Linked DNA regions of Homo sapiens. The protein of the gene in region 3 purifies or fractionates together with the protein of the main gene of each other region. This does not show direct contact. Each region holds a gene or a part of one and is shown on either strand. Other genes may lie near its edges.

Region 1 (3,986 bases), on a different chromosome or scaffold from region 3:
AACCACATGTTCACACGCGGATGGCCCTCCACTCATGCTGCCTGCACCCCGCCCCCGACACACTCCTGCATGCATGTACCTCTGTGGATACTGTGGAACACATGAAATCCTCACATCACACACCCCAAATACACTCGTCCCATGCACCCAGTCCCCAAAAGTGTCCCAATTCCCCAGTGCTGTCCCATGATACACAAAATCTGCCCTCAGACTTACTGAAGCACACAGTCACAGAGCCAGCCTGTGTCCACCCAACCTCGTGGGGACCCCAGGTCCCTTGCTACCTTCAGCAAGACTGGGCCATCTGTGAAACTGCACATACATAGCTTTGGAGATAGTTCTGGTATCACCGGACAGGCTGTACATCCCCAACAACCTCTAAATCCACACAGGTCTGCTTCCCCTTCTCCAATAGGATCCTCCTAGTGCTAAATTATGTCTTTCATAGGCTCAAGACATTCTTGCCCGGTGGGCACCTTCCTAAATAAAAAGAAAATTTTTTAAATTACGTTTTTGTAATTATGTAATACAAGGATATAATAGCAATGACTGCATTGCTATTAAGATAATATATTAATATCATATATTCAAACATTCTCTTTCACCTAAAAGGTGTTTTCCTTTTCTTCTGATTTTAAGAGAAACCATTTTCAGGGGCTGTGAGTCCTCACCACTTTGGGTACATTTGTGTGCCTGTCATTTGCACAGTGCGTGCACACGTGTGCACACACACACAACCATACCCCACCTTAGACCATCTCTTTCCACAAACACACAATGGGCAAACTCCCCTCCTTGCCCACCTCACCTAAGCCCATCTCTCATCCCCCAGCCAGAGAAACAGACTGACAGATCCTGGGGGCTCCACAGAGCAACCCTTCCCCTCCACCTCCACGCCCCTCCTTCAGAGAACTTATCTGGGCTGGAGCTACAAGAGTAGCGAGGGTGTGTGTGTGTGTGTGTGTGTGTGTGTGTGTTTTGAGTAACAACAAAGACTGGGGAAAAAGAAGAGAGAGGAGGGAGGAGAGAAGGAAAAGGGAGAGAGAGAGAGAGAGGAGAGCATAGGAGCGAGAGAGCAAAAGCGTGTTTTGCCTGGAAGGCAAGACTTGCAGCCAATCAGCGCGTAGGAGCCTCCCTCGGCGACTCCACTATTGAGTCTATAACCGGCTGGCCGGGCGGAGCTGGCAGCATTTGATTGTGGCTTGGGACGCGAGGAGAGGCGCGCAGCGACCGCCTGACGGCAGGCAATGGTGTAAGCGCCTCTCGGCCTCCCCCTCCCCCCAGACGCGGCCGGGTCCTCCCTTCGCCTTCTGGACACACACCCCTGCCTCGTCTCTTCCGCCTCTCTCGCACTCCGGTCCGTTCCTGTCCTCTGCGGAGGCCAGCCCTGGGGAGGTGCAGCGCCCGCCAGGATGAGTGGCTCCTTCGATCGCAAGCTCAGCAGCATCCTCACCGACATCTCCAGCTCCCTTAGCTGCCATGCGGGCTCCAAGGACTCGCCTACCCTGCCCGAGTCTTCTGTCACTGACCTGGGCTACTACAGCGCTCCCCAGCACGATTACTACTCGGGCCAGCCCTATGGCCAGACGGTGAACCCCTACACCTACCACCACCAATTCAATCTCAATGGGCTTGCAGGCACGGGCGCTTACTCGCCCAAGTCGGAATATACCTACGGAGCCTCCTACCGGCAATACGGGGCGTATCGGGAGCAGCCGCTGCCAGCCCAGGACCCAGGTGAGGGCCACGGGGTCGCGAGGACAGTGGGAGACACTGGAAGGTTCCCGAGGGAGGAAAAGGCATGGACTGGAAGCCAAAATCTAGGAAAACTTCTAAGAAAAGTACTGTCTGGAGTTAGAGAAGTTGGCCTAGATGACCCTCAGAGGGACCAGGCGACCTTCCAGCCCCGGGTGTGCAAGCATTTGGGGCGCGATGTGCGCAGTGCGCCGCGGTCCCGGATGAGGATCGGGATGAGCTGAGAGAGGAAGGGGAAGGCTGTGGGTTGTTAGGAAACCTCCGAATCGAGGTGATTTCGTGGGCATTTCAGCAGGCGATCCTCGATCAAGTCGCAGAGGGCTTGGGGGTAGGCGGCAGGGGCTGGAAACTCTAGGGGCCCTCCTTTGGATAAGGGATGGGGAGACTAGGAGTCGTGAGGGGGCAATGAGAAGGACCCACGGAAGTTGCGGGAAAGCGGAGGGAAGCAGCCACCGAGAGGCAGAGAAGCTGAAAAAGGGAAAAGTGAAGGCAGCAAGAGGGAAGTATGGAAAGACAGTGAGAGAAAGGGCAGAAGAAACAAGAAAGGAAGGAGAGAAGGAAGGGGGGAAGAAGGGGGACAGGGAAAGAAAGAAAGTCTGCACTATCCTTGCAACTTTTCTGAAAATCTAAAGAGATTCTAAAATGAAACTTTTTTAAAGGGCGGGGGGCGGACGGGAAGGAGCGAGAGAAACAACCGACGGCGAGATGGGACTGGGAAGGGGGCGGCTAGCAGCCGGGCGGCGAGGAGCCCCGAGGCTGGGAGGCGAGCCGGGAAGGCGTCGTGAGCGAAGCCGAGGCGGTCCTGGCGCAGGCGGCGGCTGGCGCCGGGGACAGTGCTGCGGCGGCCGGGCGCGGAGCTGGGAGCGCCGCGTTGTGGGCCGCGGCCAGTTCTGGCTCTGGGGCCGCGGCTCCCCCCTGGGCCGCGGGCAGCGGAGCGCGCGGCCGGGAATCCCGCGGCGAGTCGGTGGGCGGAAGCGAGGGGCGTCCGGCGGGGCCCTGGAGGGTCGCAGGAGTCGCAGGCCGAGGCTGAACCGCCCCCTCTTCCGCCCGGTGCGTTCCCCGCAGTGTCGGTGAAGGAGGAGCCGGAAGCAGAGGTGCGCATGGTGAATGGGAAGCCCAAGAAGGTCCGAAAGCCGCGTACGATCTACTCCAGCTACCAGCTGGCCGCCCTGCAGCGCCGCTTCCAGAAGGCCCAGTACCTGGCGCTGCCCGAGCGCGCCGAGCTGGCCGCGCAGCTGGGCCTCACGCAGACACAGGTTGGTGTTTGGCTGTCCAGGGCCGCGGGGGCGCGCGGGACCCCGTAGTTCCCCGCGCGCTGCCGAGCCTGGCTGGCCACTGAAGGGCCCTGCGGGCTCCTGGAACTCTTGCCTTTGGGATGGGGGCCTGCGAGGTTCAACTTCGGTGGGAAGGTTCTGCGTTAGCACGTGTACAAGTGAGCATAGTTGTGAACCCGTGCAACTGTGTATGTTCCCCTACTCCAGAATTCCCAGCTCCCAAGTCCCCCAGCAGTGCTAGTCACTTAGTAGGAGTCCACATCGTGTTTTCCCTCCAGGCTAGGCATGTGTGCAGACTGTCTGTGTGCATGTATAGGCGAGTGTGTTTGCACACATGCTGTGTGGGTCTGCATGCACCGGAGGATGCTCATGTAAGGAGTGTGATCCTGCCGGGGTCATTGTGCATAACGATGGGGGCATGTGTGTGTGACTGTGCGCCCTGAATGTATATGCGTTCTGAATGCATGTTCAGAAATGTGTGCTTGCATCAAAATACCACATTCCTGCTCAGCACTTGAACGCTCAAGAGAGGCCAAATTCCCTACCTGAAGGAGATGGGGACTCAAAAGTGAGTGCCGCACCCCCACCCTCATCCAGTCCCTAAAGCCCCCAGCAGCCTGTCACTGCTCAGGGGAGGAGCAGTGGATGCCTGGCTCCCTCCAGGTGTTGACAGGCGGGCCTAGGTTGTGGCTGTGGCTGCGTGGGGCCCCATCCGCCGGGAATCTGGGTCACCTGGTGAGGAGCTGATTCATTGTTTGTACCAGTCATGGGGTGGGGAGTGGCAGGGGGAGGGGGAGATACCCCAGGGGAAATTTGGGGAATCATGGCTCACCTGCTCCTGAGTCCCCAGGTCACCCCCATTATCCAGCCCGAGCCCAGGAGAACTTCTCCACACCTGAGTGTGTGAATGTGGGTGCTCATGTTGTGGGGTGCTTATCTGGGTGTATCTGTGTCTGC
Region 2 (3,722 bases), on a different chromosome or scaffold from region 3:
TTGATAGTGGTATAAGTATTTATATCCATTAATTCCTTTAATTTTCATAATTATTTTTATATAAAACAAAATACAGGCCAGATGCAGTGGCTCATGCCTATAATCCCAGCACTTTGGGAGGCTGAGGTAGGAGGACTGCTTGAGCCCAGGAGTTCAAGACAAGCCTGGACAACACAGCAAGACTCCCAATTTCTACCAAAAAAAAATTTTTTTTTAAATCAGCTGGGCATGGTGGCACATGCCTGTGGTCCCAGCTACTTAGGAGGCTCAGGTGGGAGGATCACTTGAGCCCAGGAGGTTGAGGTTGTGGCGTGCCATGATCACATCATGGCCCTCCAGCCTGGGCAACAGAATAAGAACCTGCATCTAATAAAAAATAATAATAAACCAAAATATATAAAATCGCATAACATAGGCCAGGCACAGTGGTTCACGCCTATAATCTCAGCACTTTGGGAGGCCAAGGCGGGCAGATCACCTGAGGTCAAGAGTTCAGGACCATCCTGGCTAACATGGTGAAACCTCATCTTTACTAAAAATACAAACATTAGTAGGGCTTGGTGGCGGGCGCCTGTAATCCCAGCTACTCAGAAGGCTGAGGCAGGAGAATTGCTTGAACCTGGGAGGCAGAAGTTGTAGTGAGCCAAGATCGCGCCATTGCACTCCAGCCTGGGCGACAAGAAGGAAACTCTATCTCAAAATAAATAAATAATTGTATAATATATATATATATGTAGGCTGGGCGTGGTGGCTCATTCTTGTAATTGCAGCACTTTGGGAGGCTGAGGCGGGCGGATTACTAGGTCAGGAGTTTGAGACCAGCCCGGCCAACACAGTGAAACCCCGTCTCTACTAAAAATACAAAAATTAGCTGGGCATGGTGGCAGGTGCCTGTAATCCCAGCTACTCAGGAGGCTGAGGGAGAAGAATCACTTGAACCCGGGAGGCGGAGGTTGTAGTGAGCCGAGATGGCGCCACTGCACTCTAGCCTGGGCAACAGAGCTAGACTCCATCACACACACAAAAAATAGATATATTTATAATCCCCATTTTATACCGTTTGTCCTGTTAAAAAGATGGTCACCCCAGGTGTGCCTTAACTCTAAGCAATCCAAATTTACACATTTCCTTTGTTCGGGGAGTCCTCAAGAAGGTCCATCTCCTGAAGCTGTATGCAAGGTGTATGATGAATCATTACGACAATCACTATTTCACTACTTATTGAATGCAGATGCTGTACATGCAGCCTCTTTAGTAGTTCTTAGGACACCTGGAGAGGTGAGAAATGTTGCTCCCACTTTATAGGTGAGTAAACAAGGTCCGAAAAGCAAAGCCACTTGCCTCAGTTTCTACAGCTAGGTAATGGTAGGACTGGGGTTTACATTTAAACCTGATTAACTTTAAAATTCCAGCTTTCAACCATGTTTCTACATCAAATGTATATGCATTTGCTTGGAAAGAGGACCTATAGCTTTTTATGATGTGTAATCAAATTTACTGATGCCTAATTTACATGTGCCACAGCCTTCTCTCGCATTTTTCAAAAGGATCTTAACCTAAAAGACAACCTTTTTTCCTCCAAACACAAGGCTCCCTGAAGGATGTTTACAACTGGACTCAGTAGCCAAAAGAGAACTTCTAGACCACTTCCTCAGAACCCAACATCACATCATTCAGGCGGGTCCCCCCATCCTGTCACTCACACTGATCTCTTTGGAAAATTCCTCATTCCCACTCCAGCTCCCTACCTCCTCACAGCCAAGTCAAACACTGCTGCTACTGCCACTTCTTCCAGGCAGCCTTCCCTTCTGTTCCACTGAACTCCTGTAGCTTTGCCTCCCATACTGTCCCCCATCTTATAATCCATTTGAGTTAGTGACGGGCTGACTTCCTCACTAGACTATAAGCTACTTGAAAGCAAGGATCACATCTGATTTGCTCCTGTTTCCCACAGAGCCTGGTAAAACAGCAGGTATTTAAGTATAGAATGAAGAAACACTGGATCATCATCTTAAAAACCATCTGGGCGCTTTTTTTTTTTTTTTTTTTTGAGACAGAGTCTCGCTGTTGCCCAGGCTGGAGTGCAGTGGCACGATCTTGGCTCACTGCAAGCTCCGCCTCCTGGGTTCATGCCATTCTCCTGCCTCAGCCTCCGGAATACCTGGGACTATAGGCACGTGCCATCATGCCCGGCTAATTTTTTGTATTTTTAGTAGAGATGGGGTTTCACCGTGTTAGCGAGGATGGTCTCGATCTCCTGACCTCATGATCTGCCTGCCTCAGCCTCCCAAAGTGCTGGGATTACAGGCGTGAGCCATATTGCCCAGCCTCTGGGAGCTTTAAAAAAAAAAAATAAAAAGCCCAGGCCCTACCCCGGGGATCCACATTCTATGCCTGACTGAGGTGTGTGTATTTAAGAATTGCCCAGGGGGTTGTAATGAGAAGCCAGGGTCGGAAAGCCATCCAGTGAGCCCAGTGTCCTTATCTATAAGACAACATCTGCTAAAGCTCATAGAGCTGCTGATGGGCCAGTTGCCACATCTCAGGGGCCTAACAGGGTTGGGCACACAATTGGTGCTCCAGAAATAGGGAAGAACAAATGAAGAATGACGAAGTCCAGCCCTCTCACTTTCCAGATGGGAAAACGGAGGCCCAGGAGGGTAATGTCACTGGCAGAGGCCAGACAACAAAAGTCAATGGAAATACTAAGATATGAATTTCTGGAATCTGGCATACAGTAGGCACTCAATAAATGCCAAGGTGACAGTGAGCCCCAAGTCCAGCTGTGTGACTGGGACTATATTTCTACCCTCTTCCCCTCCAGCCCAGACAAGGCTGCAGATGGCTACAAGCTCCAACGGGGTCAGCAGAGCCCCAGAAGGGGTAGCCGGCACCAACCCCCTGAAGGCTGCTGGGCGAGAGGGTGGAGGGGTGGGGTTGTGGGGGGATGGTGGTGAGAGGATGGAGGGGAACGCTGTCCCCCGGAGGTGCCCCCAGTCCTCACCTTCGCACTGGTAATTACTCCATAGGGAGAGAACTCTTTCCTCAGTTTGTCGTCATCAATGGAGTCGTCCAGATTCTTCACATACAAGTTCACACCCTGGGATGGAAGGGAAACTGCTGGATGTCCCCTTCTCCTCCAAGCCCCAACTGCCTTGGGGAGATCAGGGAACTGACGCAGGTACAAGGGGCATGGGGAGCCCCACCAGCCCAGCCTCCTGCTCCCCGTCTCCCTCAGCACCCAGGTACCCCCATCCCTCAGCGTGCCCATCACATGCAAGCTGTAGCCCCCACATCCCAAATTCCCCTGCAGTTCTCACACATCTGCACTGGTCCCAGCCTCACCACAGCTATTCCCCATTTCACAGATGGGGCCCACGAGGATGTCCCAGGTCCCGTGGCAGGCTGAGGTGCAGAGCATGCCCAAGCCAAGCTCTCCAGATGGTGGATGTCGGGCAGCAGGAGTCAGAGCTCCTCCCTGGCTGGCCCATGACCAGAACCCTAACACAGGTGAGCTGCCCCTCCATCCCCTGCCAGCCCAGGAACCTCGGGCACTTACTCATGTTGGTGCCAGGTGCCACTCTAAGCTTTCCCATACATTTTGATTTTTTTTTTAAGACTTTTTTTTTTTGAGATGGATTTTTGCTCTTGTTGCCTAGGCTGGAGTGCAATGGTGCAATCTCGGCTCAGTGCAACCTCTGCCTCGCGGGTTCAAGTGATTC
Region 3 (3,722 bases):
ACATCACTGGGGGGTTAACTGATATTTCTATGACTTCTGGGTATAATTTTTTACTAACAGATTTAATCCTCTAACTCAATCAAAATTTTTGTAGCTCTATGCACTTCTAGAACACCCTTCATACTCACCTCATTCTAACTTATTCAACTACTTGAAGTTTTCAGAGGTTATCTGAAGAAATGAAGTATGTATTGTTATATAAAACTAATCAATTAAAATACAAATTCTGAAATAAAGTATCAAAAATATCTACATTATCATATGATCATATTATGAAATTGATTTTCTTTTGGAATATAGTCTGCTCTTGCATAAAGTAAATATCTTCCAGGTTTTCATTAATTATATAAATAGCTTATTCATTACTTATAAATAAATATTTCTAAATAGAACAGGAATATCAAACAAACATACTTTAAAGCAAATTATATAGAGGTACAAAAATCAGATATTATGGAAAACAGGAAAAAAAACCTTCAACCAATGTTTTGATTTACATACAACTTTTCAGGAACTTATCTCTTCTGGGCCAACTGGAAATAAAACTCCAAGTGTTACCAAGGAAAAAAATTGAATTCAACAAAATGCTTTTGTGTTTGTTCAAGAATTACTCCTTAGGGCAGGCATGGTGGGGAATGTCTGTAATCCCAGCTACCCAGTAGGCTAAGGCAGAAGGTTGCTTGAGCTCGGGAGTTCAAGACCAGCCTAGGCAAGATAGTAAGACCCCCATCTCAAAAAAAAAAAAAAAAAAAAAGGGGGAATTACTGATTACTCTTTAGACTAATCCTGGTATTTCTTAGTCAAGAGATCAAGACTCAGGACAGGCCAGGCGCGGTGGCTCAGGCCTGTAATCCCGGCACTTTGGGAAGCTGAGGTGGGCAGATCACGAGGTCAGGAGATCAAGAACATCCTGATCTTGAAACCCCATCTCTACTAAAAATACCAAAAATTAGCCAGCCATGGTGGCACATGCCTGTAGTCCCAGCTACACGGGAGGCTGAGACAGGAGAATCGCTTGAACCCGGGAGGCAGAGGTTGCAGTGAGCTGGGATCACACCATTGCACTCCAGCCTGGGCGACAGAGTGAGACTCCGTCTAAAAAAATAAATAAATAAATAAAATAAGACTCAGGACAAAGTTCCTTATTTACTCTGAAAACACTAAGTTATGCCAAGTTACCTCAGCTTTCAAACCCCGTCTGTCTTCTCTTTTCGCTTCCCTTTTCCCTCCACCCAGCTAAGCAAGGGACCTGCTGCAGGGTACCAGCAGATGCAATAATGCTCCTATCTGTATCACACCAGAAGCACAGAGTGGCAGAAGAATTCTGGTCCAAATAGCAGAGGCCCCAGTGATCATGGGAGCCCATATAGGTAGAGCTCTCAGGGAAGTTCAAATGACCCTTGAGGTCAAGGAGAATGTCTGGCAAAGGGGGCAAAGTCACAGGAATCCCCATCAGAACAATGACAACGTGACCTGCTCATACAGGGGATAATAATTGACAAGAAATCCACAATCTGGTTTACCTGTTAGCTCCCTAGCACCAAGACACATCTGAGTACTACAACTGGCTTGTTCTGATTACATGTGGCCACATGGATTCACAGAGAGAGCTCAAATATTCATGTTTGATCACAATTTGGGGCTTATCTTTTGCAGAGACAAAGGAAGTTTGGCTGGCTAAAATCATAGTCCAGGAATGAACTAATCAGAACTGTGGCCCCTTTGCAGTTGACTTTACTATTCTATACTAGAGAATGTTCTCTCTACCAAAAAAAAAAAAAAAAAGTACTTAAACCTTGTAATTTTGTGAGTTAATGGCTTGGGGTGGCTTTGGCCATGGGTTTAATTTGCAAACTGCTCAGTGTGTAGGAACAAAATGATCCAGGGTGTTTGCTGGCTGTGGTGCTATTGGCACAACCTGAACTGAGAGAAACTGGCTGGTATTTGAAACAGAGTGGATATTCTCCTCTTGCTAGTGAAATGGGTACTATTTAAGAGAAAAAGGAACTGAATTTCTTCCCAATTTTCAACCAGAAGAAAATAATTCTTAGAGATTCAAAGTTCTCTCAAGTATTACAATCAGTACTAATGAGAGTGTGACACTCTCCAGGACCATGTAATCCACATTTTAAATCAAGACTAAATCAACACCAGACTTTTGCTGCTTGGATCAAGCAAACCTTAAAGCAATTAGATTTCACCTTTCCAAGTACAAATAATGACATAAATAATAGATGGTTGATCTAATTTTTTTTTCCTCTAACCTTACACAAACTCTTCTGGCCTTGCTCCCCATGCCAGAGTCATGTTGAACTGCACACTCCTTTCAAACTCCTCTAGCATTTTTCTACATGGCATTGATTCTCTATTTAGGCAGTAATCTTGTTCCACTAGCCCAGAAGATCATGAGCATTTCCACAGAAGTTAACATAGCTTAATGGCCCCAGTATCCCTGAGCCTACTACAGTGTCTCCTGCATTTAAGTTTCTCAAAAATGTCTGATATCTTAGTAAGGACATCACTGCTCACTGTTGTCAAAATTAACCCATAAACCTTGATGTATCTGAACTAGTTAAAGACACATGGAGTTTCTCAGACCAGAAGATGCAACTGGTATTTGGGTAATCATTTTGAAACTTGAAGGGCCGGGTGCGGTGGCTCACACCTGTAATCCCAGCACTTTGGGAGGCCAAGGTGGGTGGATCACGAGGTCGGGAGATCGAGACCATCCTGGCTAACACGGTGAAACCCTGTCTCTACTAAAAATACAAAAAATTAGCCGGACACGGTGGCAGGTGCAAGTAGTCCCAGCTACTTGGGAGGCTGAGGCAGGAGAATGGTGTGAACCCGGGAGGTGGAGCTTGCAGTGAGCCGAGATAGTGCTACTGCACTCCAGCCTGGGCAGCAGAGCGAGACTCTGTCTGAAAAAGAAAGAAAGAAAGAAAGAAAGAAACTTGAAGCCCGGGTGCAATGGTTCATGCCTGTGATCCTAGTATTTTGGGAGGCCAAGGTGGGCAGAACTCTTGAGTCCTGGGGTTCGAGACCAGCCTGGGCAACATGGCAAAACCCCATCTCTACTAAAAAGACAAATAATTAGTTGGGTGTGGGGTGCACGCCTGTAGTCCCCACTATTCTAGAGGCTGGGTTGAGAGAATCACCTAAGCCCGGGAATTCAAGGCTGTGGTGAGCTATGATTGCGCCACTGCACTCCAGCTTGGGTAATGAGAGTGAGACCCTGAAAAAAAAAAAAAAAAAAAAAAAAAAAAAAAAAAAAAAAAACAGAAAGAAAAAGAAAGAAAGAAGGAAGGAAGGAGAGAGAAAGAAACTTGAAACTTGAAGCATGTGAAAGGATAAACAGAAAAGGAATTTTCCTACGTGTTGTATAACTAATAATTCTGGCAAGAATATAAAATTATGAAATATAAACTATAAATGATCTAGATCGATGGGACAGAGAGTGAAATTAGAGAAATTTATAATCATAACAAGCCATTGCATTTGATCCTTTAAACCACATTTGTTAAATGCCAAAAAAGGTAGTCTGGGGAACATCAACCCCTGAAGGGCTTCAGGAAAAAAGTTTCATGGTCAAAAATAAGTTGGGGTAATACTGCCTAATACAGCCTCCTTCGGAGAGCCACCAATGCACAGGATGGTGAAAAAGACTCCAAGCCTGCAGTCAAGAAATCTGTTTATCCTTGTTGAACTTCGTATTGCTCTTT

What was found.
Region 1: the proteins of GCM1 (region 3) and DLX3 purify together in Homo sapiens (co-immunoprecipitation; one study listed by IntAct). This does not show direct contact.
Region 2: the proteins of GCM1 (region 3) and PABPC1L purify together in Homo sapiens (affinity purification with mass spectrometry; one large-scale study listed by BioGRID and IntAct). This does not show direct contact.

The regions. Positions count from the first base shown.
Region 1 is NC_000017.11:49,992,425-49,996,410, reverse strand, and holds the start of DLX3 (homeobox protein DLX-3), read left to right. Parts: upstream 1-1,186; 5' UTR 1,187-1,412; coding exon 1,413-1,737; intron 1,738-2,820; coding exon 2,821-3,011; intron 3,012-3,986. UniProt on the Homo sapiens protein: Transcriptional activator. Activates transcription of GNRHR, via binding to the downstream activin regulatory element (DARE) in the gene promoter.
Region 2 is NC_000020.11:44,923,539-44,927,260, reverse strand, and holds part of PABPC1L (polyadenylate-binding protein 1-like), read right to left. Parts: intron 3,101-3,722; coding exon 3,005-3,100; intron 1-3,004. UniProt on the Homo sapiens protein: Poly(A)-binding protein involved in oocyte maturation and early embryo development. It is required for cytosolic mRNA polyadenylation and translational activation of maternally stored mRNA in oocytes.
Region 3 is NC_000006.12:53,138,763-53,142,484, forward strand, and holds part of GCM1 (chorion-specific transcription factor GCMa), read right to left. Parts: intron 1-3,722. UniProt on the Homo sapiens protein: Transcription factor involved in the control of expression of placental growth factor (PGF) and other placenta-specific genes. Binds to the trophoblast-specific element 2 (TSE2) of the aromatase gene enhancer. Binds to the SYDE1 promoter.